2 separate regions of the Homo sapiens genome follow, and region 1 is linked to region 2. A link means that fine-mapping ties the variant in region 2 to the expression of a gene that starts in the linked region. Tissue or cell type: whole blood. Region 2 holds a variant in brackets; the other region holds the start of a gene. All regions are shown on one strand. Distances are between the middles of the regions.

Region 1 (5,000 bases), 27 kb after region 2:
GAAAATCACAAGTTCTGACTTCAGAGTTATGAAGAAAGCTCTAAGCAATCTGTAAGTGTTTTGGTTTCATGAGTCCAGTATCTACATACTCCTAGAGTGACACTAATCCTACTTAGTCTTGGGGATTAACTGGCTAAAGCTCTAAAAAAGCTAGCTGGATTTTGGAACAGGTCAAGGGACAGACAGAGACTCCTTTGTGAGATTGCTAACAGTCTTCCTGCAAACATTCAAGAGTCATTATATTCTAAATACATGTAATACATGCTCATCAGTAAAAACTTAATTGAAGAAAGTATATATATATACACAAAACCCCGAAAGGCAAGACCTATAACTTTATTTAACTATTCCAATAATTTGTACTAGAGTTTCCAAATATTAATATTTGTTAATAAAAATCTCTCGTTTCTTTTTTTAAATTAACTGATTTACCTCAAGAGTGCCTTCTAGGAATGTTTGGACATTTGTTCAAAAACATGACTACCATAATCCAAATTTCTGATTTCTATACCAATTTAAATCACCAATTTACAAATTGTTCAGTTTTTTCCTTAAGAAACAAAAAAGCCAGTTTTTTTGAAGCTACTAAAAAATTTGACTGTTAAGACATGTAAATCCTTTTTGTGGCCCTAGTGCAAGTCACTTTATGACTGCTGACCTAAGTGCCTCATCTATAAAATGGGGATAATTAAACCTGTTCTATTTACTGCAAGGATCAACTGAGATATTAGGAGAAAAACAATTTAAAATGTCAAAAACCTACTAATGTACACAATAAGCATAGTGTCATTTACTTTTCCTTTCATTTTCAATCCATTTTTTTCCTTACGGGATTACAGAATTAATTTATGTAAAGTATAATATAACCCCCAGACAGCATCACAGAATCTAAACTATTCAAGCTCTTCTAATAAACAGCATTGAGCTAAAAACTTGGCGTAACAAAACAATTATAAATTCCAAATTTAATGCTAAATGACATTCACATTTCAGTAATTCGTTCTTCACTGCAGTGCATAAAGTTATAGAGCTATTAAAAGACGAGTTAATTATGAATAAACCGTTATTAAACACAAATAGTTGAAGAAATACACCTCAAATTAACAACAGCCACAAACATTGATTTGGTCCATGTAATGAGTATGAGCAGAACCGTAGAGGCAGGGAGTTCACTGTAAATCTACAAGATTTCAGTAATAAAACAGGAGAATATGGAGCAAAATAGCCTAGAGCAACAGAGAATATATGAGTTAATAAACGTTCTCAAAGTCGTGTAGATTTTAGCCTAAGAAGACAACAAAGGGAAGAAACCAAGGACTGAACGTCTATTTTCTTTGAAACTAATGGATTTTTTTTAAACTTACATTATTTCACACTAGATCCCCTACCAAGACTGCCATAAAGAAAAATTAAACCTCTATTCAGCTCAAAAGTTTACGTTTCAGGAACGTACTAACACCAGTAACCGTGAACATCAGGTGGTTTCTCTTTGTTGCTTATCGATGACACAGCTTTCTTCCCGACAGTCCACAACTAATTACAACCCAACTGCTTGCCTAATGGCCCGTTCCTACCTCCATCTAAACAGCAGTAACGAAACGGGCGTTCAAGCAGCACAAAGAGGGTCCTTGGTGACAGAGAGGGACGTCAGGGAGAGGGTCGCGGGGGTCTGGCTGCGCAGGGGAGAGGCTCGGGGCGACGAGCGGGGCTGGGCGGCTGGGGCCTGCTGGCCGCGTCCGTCGCCCCGAGCGGGGAGATTTCGGCGGGCCTCGGGGCGCTTTGGAGACCAGGGCCAGACGGTGCCTCCGGCCCGGCTGCCGGGAGACGCAGCGGTGGGGCCAGGCCCACTGTATCTCAAACGAACCGGGGAGGCGCTGAACAGCCACGGGCCGGCAGCCCGGGCCTCGCAGACACTGAGGAAAGGCTGGGGGCGCCCGGGGCCTGAAGGAGCAGGGCGCTGAGGGTCTGCATGGCCCCTCTGGGGGATCTGGCGGCGGAGTCGCAGCCGTCCCTGGGGCGCGGGGTAGTAGTGGCAATTGTGCGAGCCGACAGGAGCCCGCGTCTCGGGGAGGGCGGGCCGGCGGCTGAGGTATACAAGAGGATGAAGGTAGGCCGGAGGGGTGTCCCGGCCGCCTCTCGAACCCCTGCCTCCTTCACCTGCCACGAACACCACGAAGACCGCGCCGCTCCTTTTGGCCGTCGCGATGGCGGCCGGAATGGCGCCCTGGAACCACAGCATCGCTCCCTTCGGGCCCAGGCGCTCGCTCGGTGTGTAGTCTCCGCAGTCCCGAAGCCGGCTCCGCCCTCCGTCTTCGTCCGGCTCTGCGGCCCCCGCAACCTTGGCTGGTTCGGCCCCCACCTCCGGCTCCGCACAAGCGCGCACGCCCGTCAGCGGCACCCGGAGACGCGCGCTAGCGCGCGCGAGAACACCTCACGTCACAGTCGCAACCCGTCGGTGTCCGTGCCCCAGGACCTTCTCTCGTTGGCGAGTCGATGGTGCGGGCGCGCGCCCGCTAGGCCTCCGGTCGCGCAGTCCAGGAAGTGGAGGAAAGCGGTAAGAGGGATGACTAACCGCTAAGACACGTCGGCGGCGCCTGCAGTGAGGCATGATGGGAATTGTAGTCCACTTAGGCTTATTCGCCTCCATATTGTGGAGCATGTAACTGTGGGTTCTGAGGCACAGCTAAAGGGGGCAGTAGTGAGGGCCACTACACATTCTATAAAGGGGAGAGGGAGAAATAAGTGTCACTCCAACTGGCATATGCTATTCTCGGCCTCGTTGAGACTCTCAGTGTGGAGGAAATAGTCCTCGCATGGAACTAAATGGGCTTTGTCGGGATTAACTCCGAGGCTTTGATTTCTTCTGAACGTAGCCCAACCTTGCAGAAAAACGGGATAAAAACCGCAAGTCACCTTCTTTAATAACCTGTAGTCCATGTGCCTAAGCGGAGGAATTGGTAGAACGCAGGCCTTCAGCAATTTCCTAGACACTGGATAGAGATCATTTCAAAACTTCAAAACGCGTTAGGCTATTGCCACAGCTACTTTTTAAAGTAACACAAAGCAGAGAATAGATTATTTCTTTTCCAGCTACTTTCCATGGTAATACAAAAGAGACTAGATAGTGATTTATTTTCCAATTTTCTGGGAGAATGTCCTATAATCAAGATGTGGCGCTTTGTGATTGGCTGCCATTAAATGAAAACTGATCCATATTTAATACTTTCATGAAATCACATGGTCTGTAATAACTATTAGCTAAAGGCTTGCATGGTTTATTTAAAGTTGCATATACTATTATGTTAAATTCTACATCAATTAAATTTATCCTCCAGCAGTACATCTATCTGACAATCTTTGCAAGATAAAGGAAGTGATACATCTGAATATACCACCTTTCCTACAGATATTTTCCCTAAAAATAGCTAATTATTTGCACTCCGATTTTTGTACTTTTTTTCCCAATCAGGCCTCTCGTATATAGTGTTATTATAAACTGAGACATAATGCTGATTAGGGACAGTTGCTTCTATAGGACAACAATCCTACAGAAAAATTAGAATTGACCTTTAACATCAACTTTAATGGACTTCTGGAAATTTGATCAATCTAGAAATTATTCCAATAGAGCTATGTCTTTAATTATCTCTAATTTTAGAATTAAATAAGAATCCTTCATAGTTTTATATTCATTTGTCAAGTGTTTATCACTCATCTTTTATGAGCTAGGCATTGTGCCTGGCACTGATAAGGAGGTGAGGCAGTCAGAAGAAGGCCCTGTCTTTGTGACTGTACAGTCTAGTCAGGAAGACAGACATTGAATAAGTAATTATGAGTGATGATAAATGTCACAGAAGGGTAATTCAGAGTGCTACAGAAGTGTATGAGGATGGGACCGAACATGGGCTAGTGGAGTCAGAAAGGGCCTTCATGAGGAAATGACGTGTCGGGGAACTCTAGGTAGGTGAAGGAGAAGGCTATTCCACATGAGGCTCTGAAGCAAGCAAACACAGTGCACTTGCAGAACTAAAAAATGCCCAGTGTGGCTATAACATAGAAAGAGGAGTGTGGTACAAGTGAGGCTGGAAAGCTAGGCAAGGATCAGATGATACAGAGTCTTGAAAATCATGTTAAAAATTTTAAGACATTTTTCTAAGGATTACAGGGAGCCATTGAAAAATTTTAAACAGAAGAGTTGGCCAGGCACAATGGCTCATGCCTGTAATCCCAGCACTTTGGGAGGCCGAGGCGGGCAGATCATGAGGTCAGCAGTTCAAGACCAGCCTGACCAACGTGGTGAAACCCCATCTCTACTAAAAATACAAAAATTAGCTGGGCGTGATTGCACATGCCTGTAATCCCAGCTACTCAGGAGGCTGAGGCAGGAGAATCGCTTGAACCTAGGAGGTGGAGGTTGTAGTGAGCCAAGATGGCACCACTGCCCACCAGCCTGGGCGAAAGAGCAAGACTATATCTCAAAAAATAAATAAATAAACAGATACATATAAGACTTCCATTTTTAAATTGTATGATAGCAATTGAATAGATTGGATTTGAAGTGGAATGGCTGAATGTGAATAGACCAGGTAAGAGGTACTTATTCATGTATTAACATAAGGGAGATAGTGAAGTGGATGCTTTTGATATTCTGGAGACAGACCCAATATATTTTGTTGATTACATGTGGAGGTTGAGGAAGAAGGACTCAAGAAGGGATTTTGTGGCCAGGTGTGTTAGCTCATGCCTGTAATCCAAGCACTTTGGGAGGCCAAGGCAGGAGGATCACTTGAACCCAGGAGTTTGAGGCTGCAGTGAGCCATGACTGCACCGAGCCATGACTGCACCACTGCACTCCAGCTTGGGCGACAGAGCAAGACCCTGTCTCTAAAAAAAAAGAGAGAGAGAGAGATTTGGGGTATCTGCCTTGCAAAATCGTAAAGAAGATGGTACTGAGATAGGCAACACTGAAAGAAGTGAAGGATGGTGGGGAGGTTGTTCAT
Region 2 (8,514 bases):
TTTTTTTTGGGGACGGAGTCTCGCTCTGTCGCCCAGGCTGGAGTGCAGTGGCGCAATCTCGGCTCACTGCAAGCTCCGCCTCCCGGGTTCACGCCATTCTCCTGCCTCAGCCTCCCGCGTAGCTGGGACTACAGGCGCCCGCCACCATGCCCAGCTAATTTTTGTATTTTTAGTAGAGACGGGGTTTCACCATGTTAGCCAGGATGGTCTCGATCTCCTGACCTCGTGATCCGCCCGTCTCGGCCTCCCAAAGTGCTGGGATTACAGGCGTGAGCCACCGCGCCCGGCTATTGGGCCCTCTTTTAAAGTTATTTATGTAGTACTTTTTTAGTGTACACTCACACGAAATGAGAGATACCATTGGGAGCTGTCAAATTAATATGTCCCTCTGGAATGGACTGCTTATAACCACAGTATACATCAGTGTTAAAAACCAGCTTATAATCATTCTCCTCAGCCCCTATGTGCACAGAGATGTTTCAGCATGAAATATAGTACCTTCTTTCTCTTGCATAAGATTCCCTCTTGACTTCCATTTCTGCCTGTTTTGCTAGCAAGGCAGCAGCTTTGGCAGCCTCTACTTCTTCCTTTGTCTTTGCAAAACGAGCAGCTCTCTCTGCACGGTCCTTTAAAACATCATTAAATACCAATTACCTTTACTGCCAGAATGGTTAATTCACACAATTCCAAACAAATATGCATGGAATTTTTTTTTTTTATTAAGAGACAGGGTCTTGCTGTGTCATCAAGGCTGGAGTGCAGTGGCACAATCATAGCTCACTGCAGCCTCTGAACACCTGGGCTCAAGCAATCCTCCCACCTCAGCTTCCAGAGTAGCTGGGACTACAGGTGTGTGCCACCATGCCCAGCTAATTTTTTTTCTTTTCTTGTAGAGGTGGGGTCTCACTTTGTTGCCCAGGCTGATCTTATACTCCTGGCTTCAAGCAATCCTCCCACCTCAGCCTCCCAAAATTCTGGGATTACAGTTGTGAGCCACTGTGCCTTTGCTGCCTGAAATTGTCTAACACCATATGTGAACTTTAACATTCTGGAACTGTTATTTTTTAGTTTTATCAACTGTCGGAGACCAGAATTATTATTAAGGAAACAAGGAAATGAATTTGCTCACTACTGTATCTCCAAAGCCTGGAACAAGGTCTGGTACATAATAAATGCTCAACAAGCCTGGGTGTGGTGGCTCACGCCTGTAGTCCCAGCACTTTGGGAGGCCGAGGTGGGTGGATCACCTGAGGTCAGGAGTTCCAGACCAGCCTGACCAATGTGATGAAATCCCGTCTCTACTAAAAATACAAAAATTAGCTGGGCATGTTGGCATGCACCTGTAACCTCAGCTACTTGGCAGCCTGGGACAGGAGAATTGCTTGAACTCGGGAGGTGGAAGTTGCAGTGAGCCAAGATTGCGCCACTGCACTCTAGCCTGAGCAACAAGACTAAAACTCCATCTCAAAAATAAATAAATAATAAATGCTCAACAAATACTTGTTGACTGACCAAATGAACAAAAATATTAAGGTAGGGATGGCTTTTTTTCTTTCTTTCTTTTTTTTGAGATGGAGTTTCGCTTTTTGTCGCCCAGGCTGGAGTGCAATGGCACCATGTCAGCCTACTGCAACTTCCACCTCCTAGGTTCAAGTGATTCTCCTGCCTCAGCCTCCCAAGTAGCAGGATTATAGGCGCCCACCACCACACCCGATTAATTTTTGTATTTTTAGTAGAGATGGCGTTTCACCATGTCGGCCAGGCAAGTCTTGAACTCCCGACCTGAGGTGATCCGCCCTCCTTAGCCTCCCAAAGTGCTGGGATTACAGGCGTGAGCCACACCTGGCGGGATGGTTTTAATATGTATTGCAGCTGATGAATTATAAAAGCAATTGTTGCAAACTAAGCTTTATGATGTGCCTAAATCCTTTCAATGTTGCAAAAAAGTGTGCCTGTGACTACAGAAGAACTACTAGGTACTTAGTACTAGTAGTTACTACTAGTAGGTACTTAGTACTAGTAGTAGGTACTAGTACTTAGCTTATTTTCTAGGGAATCTTTAAAAGCTGCTTTTTGAATGCTGATAAAAGTCATAAATTAACAAAATATGAATAAAAATCACTTCAAAAAAATCAACTCAATTTTAATCTTAACTATTTTAATTCATTTACAATTTCTAATAAAAGGAAGCTCAGGATTGGTAGTCTATGAGTCACTAAAATCTATTTTTGTGTGCACAGTCTGGTAGTAATCTAAAGCTACTGTGCACAGAAAAACAGTTTCACGAATGTCTGGAAACTTAAGACTTACCAATGCAATCTGCTGTTTTATACGTTCTCGAGCTGCCCTATCTTCTGCTTTCTCTCTGTTTCTTTCCTCCAGCATTCTTTTTGTTAATTCTTCTTCTTGTTTTCTTTTATAATCCAACATTTCTTTTCCAGTTTTTCTCCTCTCAATTTCCTTCTTAATTTCTCTCTGAATTAAAGAAAAAGTTTTATGATCCAAAAACTTGATAATCTGCCCCAGATATTATTTTGAATGCAACGAAAACTGCAGTTAAAAGAATAAAACTTCATAAAATGTAAGTCTAGACGAGTTTATTAATGGCATGGTTAATGGTCAAATGTCTATCAATCTATAAATCATTGCCAATGGTCTGTTAAGATAATAATGTAGTCAGTGTAATTTGAAGGCAAGCATAATTACAGGTCTTTAGTCATGAGGGTAAATATATTACCCTTCAGGGACAACATGGCAGTCACGTATTTGGCTTGAATGAAATGGTAACCTTCCTATATTAGAACTCCAAAGACATGCTACACAGTTAGGTATACATGGTGAGAAAAATGAACCATGTGCTAGAATGCTTAACAGGAGAGGAAAAATTCAGCAAAATGTCTATACATTTTTTCACAAAAATGAACTAAAACTTTGTTCAACCTCAAGCCAAACATTTTAGCTCAAGTCCCTTTATTCTTAGTGTAAAAAAAAATCATTGCAGAGGGAAAAAGCATGGTCTAATTTATTCATAGTAATTTACGAAAAGAACACAAAAAATGTATATACTATGACTCTACTAGAGAAAACAGGAATTATCTTCATAGTGCTGCAACACTGAACTAAAACTATGAAGTCACCCTAGGCCTGCCACACTGAATAGAATAATCAATCACAACCTCAGTTAATGAGAGGACAAAACAATGCTAACTGCATGAACTTTACCTGTTCTTCCTCTTTTCTTTTCTCTTCTCTCCTTTCTTCAAGTTTTTTTGTTAGTCTGTATTAAAAAAAAAAAAACCACCACTAATTGAGACACATCATATTAATATAAAACACATTTAGGAGATGGATTTAGCTAAAACAATTGGAGAAATAAAGAAACAAACAAACAAAAAGCAAGCAACTATTTATCTGCCTGGCTTCAGGCCCCTACAGAAATCCTGGAGTCAACGAGAGCCCATCAGAAGCCTAGCTTCATTCTAAATGCCTCACTTCCCACTTATGATTAGTTTCCCTTTTTTTCTGATTTACCTGATATTGACTTTAAAATCTACAAATACATTTTCAAACAAATACATAAATCAGTGACTTATAAATGCTCTACTCCTTATATAAAACTAAACAGCACTATGGTAAAAAAAAAAAAAACCTGTAAAAATAAAAACTTAAGGCCAGCAAATTATTAATACCAAATTACTAACACCAACTTGATTCTCAACTGTAAGAAGTTCATCAGTTAAAAATGAATGGAGGCTGGGCACAGTGGCTCATGCCTGTAATCCCAGCACTTTGGGAGGGCTGAGGTTGGTGGATCTCTTGAGCTAAAGACCAGCTTGAGCAACATGGCAAAACTCTGTCTCTACAGAAAACACAAAAATTAGCCAGGCATGGTGGCGTGTGCCTGTAGTTCCAGCTACTTTAGGGGCTAAGGTAACAGAATTGCTTGAGCCGGGAGGTCGAGGCTGCAGCGAGTCACGTTCGCGTTACTGCATTCCAGCCTGGGTGACAAAGGGAGACCCTGTCTGAAATAAACAAACAAATGGAGGCTGGGTGTGGTGGCTCACATGTGTAATCTCAGCACTGCAGGAGGCTGAGGCAGGAGGATAGCCTAAGCCCTGGAGTTCGAAACCAGTCTGGGTAACAACTTGAGACCCCATCTTTACAAAAAATAAAAAATCAGGCTGGGCACGGTGGCTCAAACCTGTAATCAATCCCAGCACTTTGGGAGGCCGAGGCAGGCGGATCAATTGAGGTCAGGAGTTTGAGACTAGCCTGGCCAACACGGCGAAACGCTGTCTCTACTAAAAATAGAAAAACATCTGGGCGTGGTGGTGAGCGCCTGTAAACCCAGCTACTCGGGAGGCTGAGACAGGAGAATCGCTTGAACCTGGGAGGCGGAAGTTGCAGTGAGCCGAGATCATGTCACCGTACTCCAGCCTGGGCGAGAGTGAGACTCCGCCTCAGGAAAAAAAAATAATAATATAAAATCAGCTGAGCATGGTAGTGTAATGCAACGTAATGAAACCCCATCTCAAAAACTAATAAAATCGGCCAGGCACGGTGGCTCATGCCTGTAATCCCACCACTTTGGGAGGCCGAGGTGGGCAGATCACGAGGTCAGGAGTTTGAGACCAGCCTGACCAACATGGTGAAACCCTGTTTCCACTAAAAATACAAAAATTAGCCAGGTGTGGTGGCATGCGCCTGTAATCCCAGCTACTCAGGAGGCTGAGCCAGGAGAATCGCTTGAACCTGGGGG[G/T]CGGAGGTTGCAGTGAGCCGAGATGGTGAAACTGCACTCCAGCCTGGGAAACAAAGTGAGACTCCATCTCAAAAAAATAAAAAAATTTAAAAAATAAAATAATGATTCTGAAATTAGACAGTGGTAGTGGATGCACAACCTTGTGAATATACTAAAACTCACTGAATTGTACACTTTCAATTTCATGGTAGTGAATTATATTTCATTTTTTTAAATGAAAATGGTATTTTCTCTAAAAGTGTTTGGTGTATACCAAACTGAACAATGTGTGCCAGCAATCAAGGGAGTGAGTACTGTCAAAAAGCCAGAAGACCCAATATGAAGGGGATTCCAACAAGTCAAATTTGGGGCAATTTGTGCACCAAAAAGAATAGAGAAATGGATAGTAACACATGAGAGAAAAAAAAGCATCTGTGACATGTCTTAACTGCTAAGGGGAACTGTAAATTGGCCTAACCACTTTGGAAAGCTGTTTGATCACTATGTATAACCCAGAAATTCCCGCTTCTTCATATATATGCCCAAAAGAAATGTGTACACATGTTCACCAAGACATATACAAGAATATTCCTCATAGCAGTTCTATTCAAATAGCCCCAAACTGAAAACAATCCTAATGTCCACCAACAGTAGAATGGATTAATAAATCAAGGTAGAGTCAAACAGAATACTATAAAGCAATGAGAGTGCACCAATTACTGTGACATGCAACACGGATAAGCCTCAAAATACAAAGCTGAACAAAGGAGATCAAACACAAAAATACACGTTGCATGATTCCATCACAAAGTTCACAAACAGACAACTAACCTACAGTGTTCGATTCAGGATAGTGATCATCTTATGGAGGGAATCCATAATTGGGAAGGGGCATTAGGAAAGCTTATTAGGCACTGTTAATTTTCTTTCTTTCATTTTTTTTTTCCGAGACAAGGTCTCACTTTGTCGCCCAGGCTGGAGTGCAGTGGCACGATCTCGGCTCACTGCAACCTCTGCCTCCCGGGTTCAAGTGATTCTTCTACCTCAGGCTCCTCAGTGGCTGGGACTACAGATGCACACCCCCACGCCCAGCTAATTTTTGTATTTTTAATAGAGACAAGGTTGCACTGTGTTGGCAAGGCTGGTCTTGAACTCCTGACCTCAGGTGACCCGCCCACCTTGGCCTCCCAAAGTGCTGGGATTACAGGCGTGAGCCACCATGCCAGACTAGCACTGGTAATTTTCTATTCCTTCATCTGGGTGCTGGTGTCCAATAAGTAGTTTACTGGAAAAAGGGGGCGGGGGTGGGCAGATGGAAAGTAGAGGGGGTAGATCAAAGCATTTCTCTACAGAAGAATGCTAGCTGATAAATGTAGAAAAAAACAGAATGAGAAAAATACCACAATTTTTAAACATCAATGAAATAGGTGATTACAGCAAAAATCAATGAATGCTGAAACCACCGGGTGAAGTTTTTAAGCAGTAGGATATTTACCATTTGAATCACCCCATAGACAACTTATATATTAGAAAATGAAAAGGGTACCCAACAGACAACATCCTAACCAAATAATTAAACTTTACAGCTCCAATAATGCATACATCTCATATTACTTGTCTCCTGATATGAGTAATGGAAAGGACAAAACATTATCTTGGTAATGTTCTTATCAGAGTTTAACCTGAATCTAATGATAGAACAGGGAGCAGATCAAAGGACATTGTAGAAACAACTAACCTAGACTCTTCAAAATGTCTAAATCATGAAAAATGCAAACAAGAAGTGTCTTGGATTCAGAGCCTAAACTAAATGCAATGAACAATCCTTGACTGGATCTTGAATCAAGGGAAGAAAAGTTAAAAGGGCCATTATTGGAGCAACTGGGAAATCTGAATACGGACAAATTAGATAATCTTACTGTATCAATTGAGAATTTCTTGAGTATGATAATGGTATCGTGCTTGTATCTGAAAATATACACCATCTGAAAATGGTGTATAAACGTATTTATAGACCATCTGTAGAATTTTCTTCTGAGAAATACAAACGCAAGTTTGTTTTAATTTGGGTGAAAAGCTACACTGCATCTAATTTAATAACAAATTGACTGTTCCATAACTTCTACATTTGGGCTTCGACTTTTTTTTTTTTTTGAGATGGCTTTTCTCTCTTATTGCCCACGCTGGAGTGCAATGGCATAATCTCAGCTCACTGCAATCTCTACGTCCTGGGTTCAAGCAATTTTCCTGCCTCAGCCTCCCAAATAGCTGAGATTACAGGTACCCACCACTACGTCCGGGTAATTTTTGTATTTTTAGTAGAGACAGGGTTTCACCATGTTGCTCAGGCTGGTCTCGAACTCCTGACCTCAGTTGATCCACCTACCTCGGCCTCCCAAAGTGCTGGGATTACAGGCATGAGCCACTGTGCCGGGCTGGCATCTACTTCTTAATGGTCACTATGCCTGCTTGGGTGCCAGAAGGGGGCAGGACATGGGTCTGTGAGCACAGATCCCCAGATCCTGGCCTAGGATGGAGTCCCTGCTCAAAGCCCACAGACCCTCAGCCAATGTCTTCCTAGGAGCTGCATGCTGAGGTATCTAGGCATGAAGTGAAATTATGTCTGCAACTTTCAAATGAATCAGAAGAAAAAAAAAAAGAAAAAAATTAAAAGATGGCCATTACACTATTTTTTCAACGTTGAGGTTTGAAACTTATTCAAATAAAAAGACTAGAATTCATGGTAGTATATATTATCTTTGCCAGATAATTCTGCCCATTTTAAACATAATGACATGGCTGGGTGTGGTGGCTCATGCCCGTAATTCCAGCACTTTGGGAGGCCGAGGCGGGCAGATCACCTGAGGTCAGGAGTTCGAGACCAGCTTGACCAACATGGTGAAACCCCTGCCTCTACTAAAAATATAAAAATTAGCCGGGTGTGGTGGTGGGCACCTGTAATCCCAGCTACTCGGGAGGCTGAGGCAGGAGAATCGCTTGAATCTGGGAGGTGGAGGTTGCAGTGAGCCGAGATTGTGCCATTGCACCCCAGCTTGGGCGACAAGAGCAAAACTCCATCTCAGGGAAAAAAAAAAAAAACATAATGAAATAAACAAAATAATGCATTTTAACTAAAGATTCGCTAAAAGATTCCTATTTCACATCTGTTACTTTAGTGAAACATTGTATATCCTGGCCAGACGTGGTGGCTCAAGCCTGTAATCTCAGCACTTGAAGAAGCCAAGGCGGGTGGATTATTTGAGGCCAGGAGTTCGAGACCAGCCTGGCCAACATGGCAAACCCCTGTCTCTACTAAAAATACAAAAATTAGCCAGTCATGGTGGCGCATACCTGTAATCCCAGATACTCAGGAAGCTGAGGTACGAGGACCACTTGAACTGGGTGGAGGAGGTTGCAGTGAGCCGAGATCATGTCACTGCACTCCAGCCTGGCAACAGAGCCAGACTTCATCTCAAAAACAAACAAACAAAAAACCATCACAGGCGAGGTGCTGTGGCTCACACCTGTAATCCCAGCACTTTGGGAGGCCAAGGTGAGCAGATGACCTGAAGTCAGAAGTTCAAGACCAGCCCAGCCAACATGGCGAAACCCTGTTGCTACTAAAAATATTTTAAAAATTAGCCGGGTGTGGTGGTGCATGCCTGTAATCCCAGCTACTTGGGAGGCTGAGGCAGGAGAATCGCTGGAACCCGGGAGTCAGAGGCTACAGTGAGCCAAGATCATGCCACTGCACTCCAGCCTGGGCAACAGGGCAA

What was found. PIP is the estimated chance that this variant, and not a neighbour inherited with it, causes the effect.
Region 1: UBXN4 starts here. The variant in region 2 is fine-mapped to the expression of UBXN4 in whole blood (INTERVAL, PIP 0.96).

Annotation. Positions count from the first base shown.
Region 1 is chr2:135,739,169-135,744,168 of GRCh38, reverse strand. UBXN4 (UBX domain protein 4) reads right to left here and starts at 2,314. Exons shown (of 13, transcript NM_014607.4): 1 at 2,158-2,314. The coding sequence starts at 2,239. It overlaps LOC107985946 (a long non-coding RNA gene), which reads left to right and starts at 1,525. Exons shown (of 1, transcript NR_163478.1): 1 at 1,525-3,340. RefSeq lists a silencer at 1,727-1,776 and enhancers at 1,073-1,848, 2,177-2,236, 2,567-2,696.
Region 2 is chr2:135,764,532-135,773,045 of GRCh38, reverse strand. UBXN4 (UBX domain protein 4) reads right to left here. Exons shown (of 13, transcript NM_014607.4): 7 at 3,223-3,277; 8 at 2,311-2,475; 9 at 499-626. Among named protein-coding and RNA genes, the nearest start is that of UBXN4, 27 kb to the right of the region's middle. The variant G/T (reference allele first, on the strand shown) is at 4,760.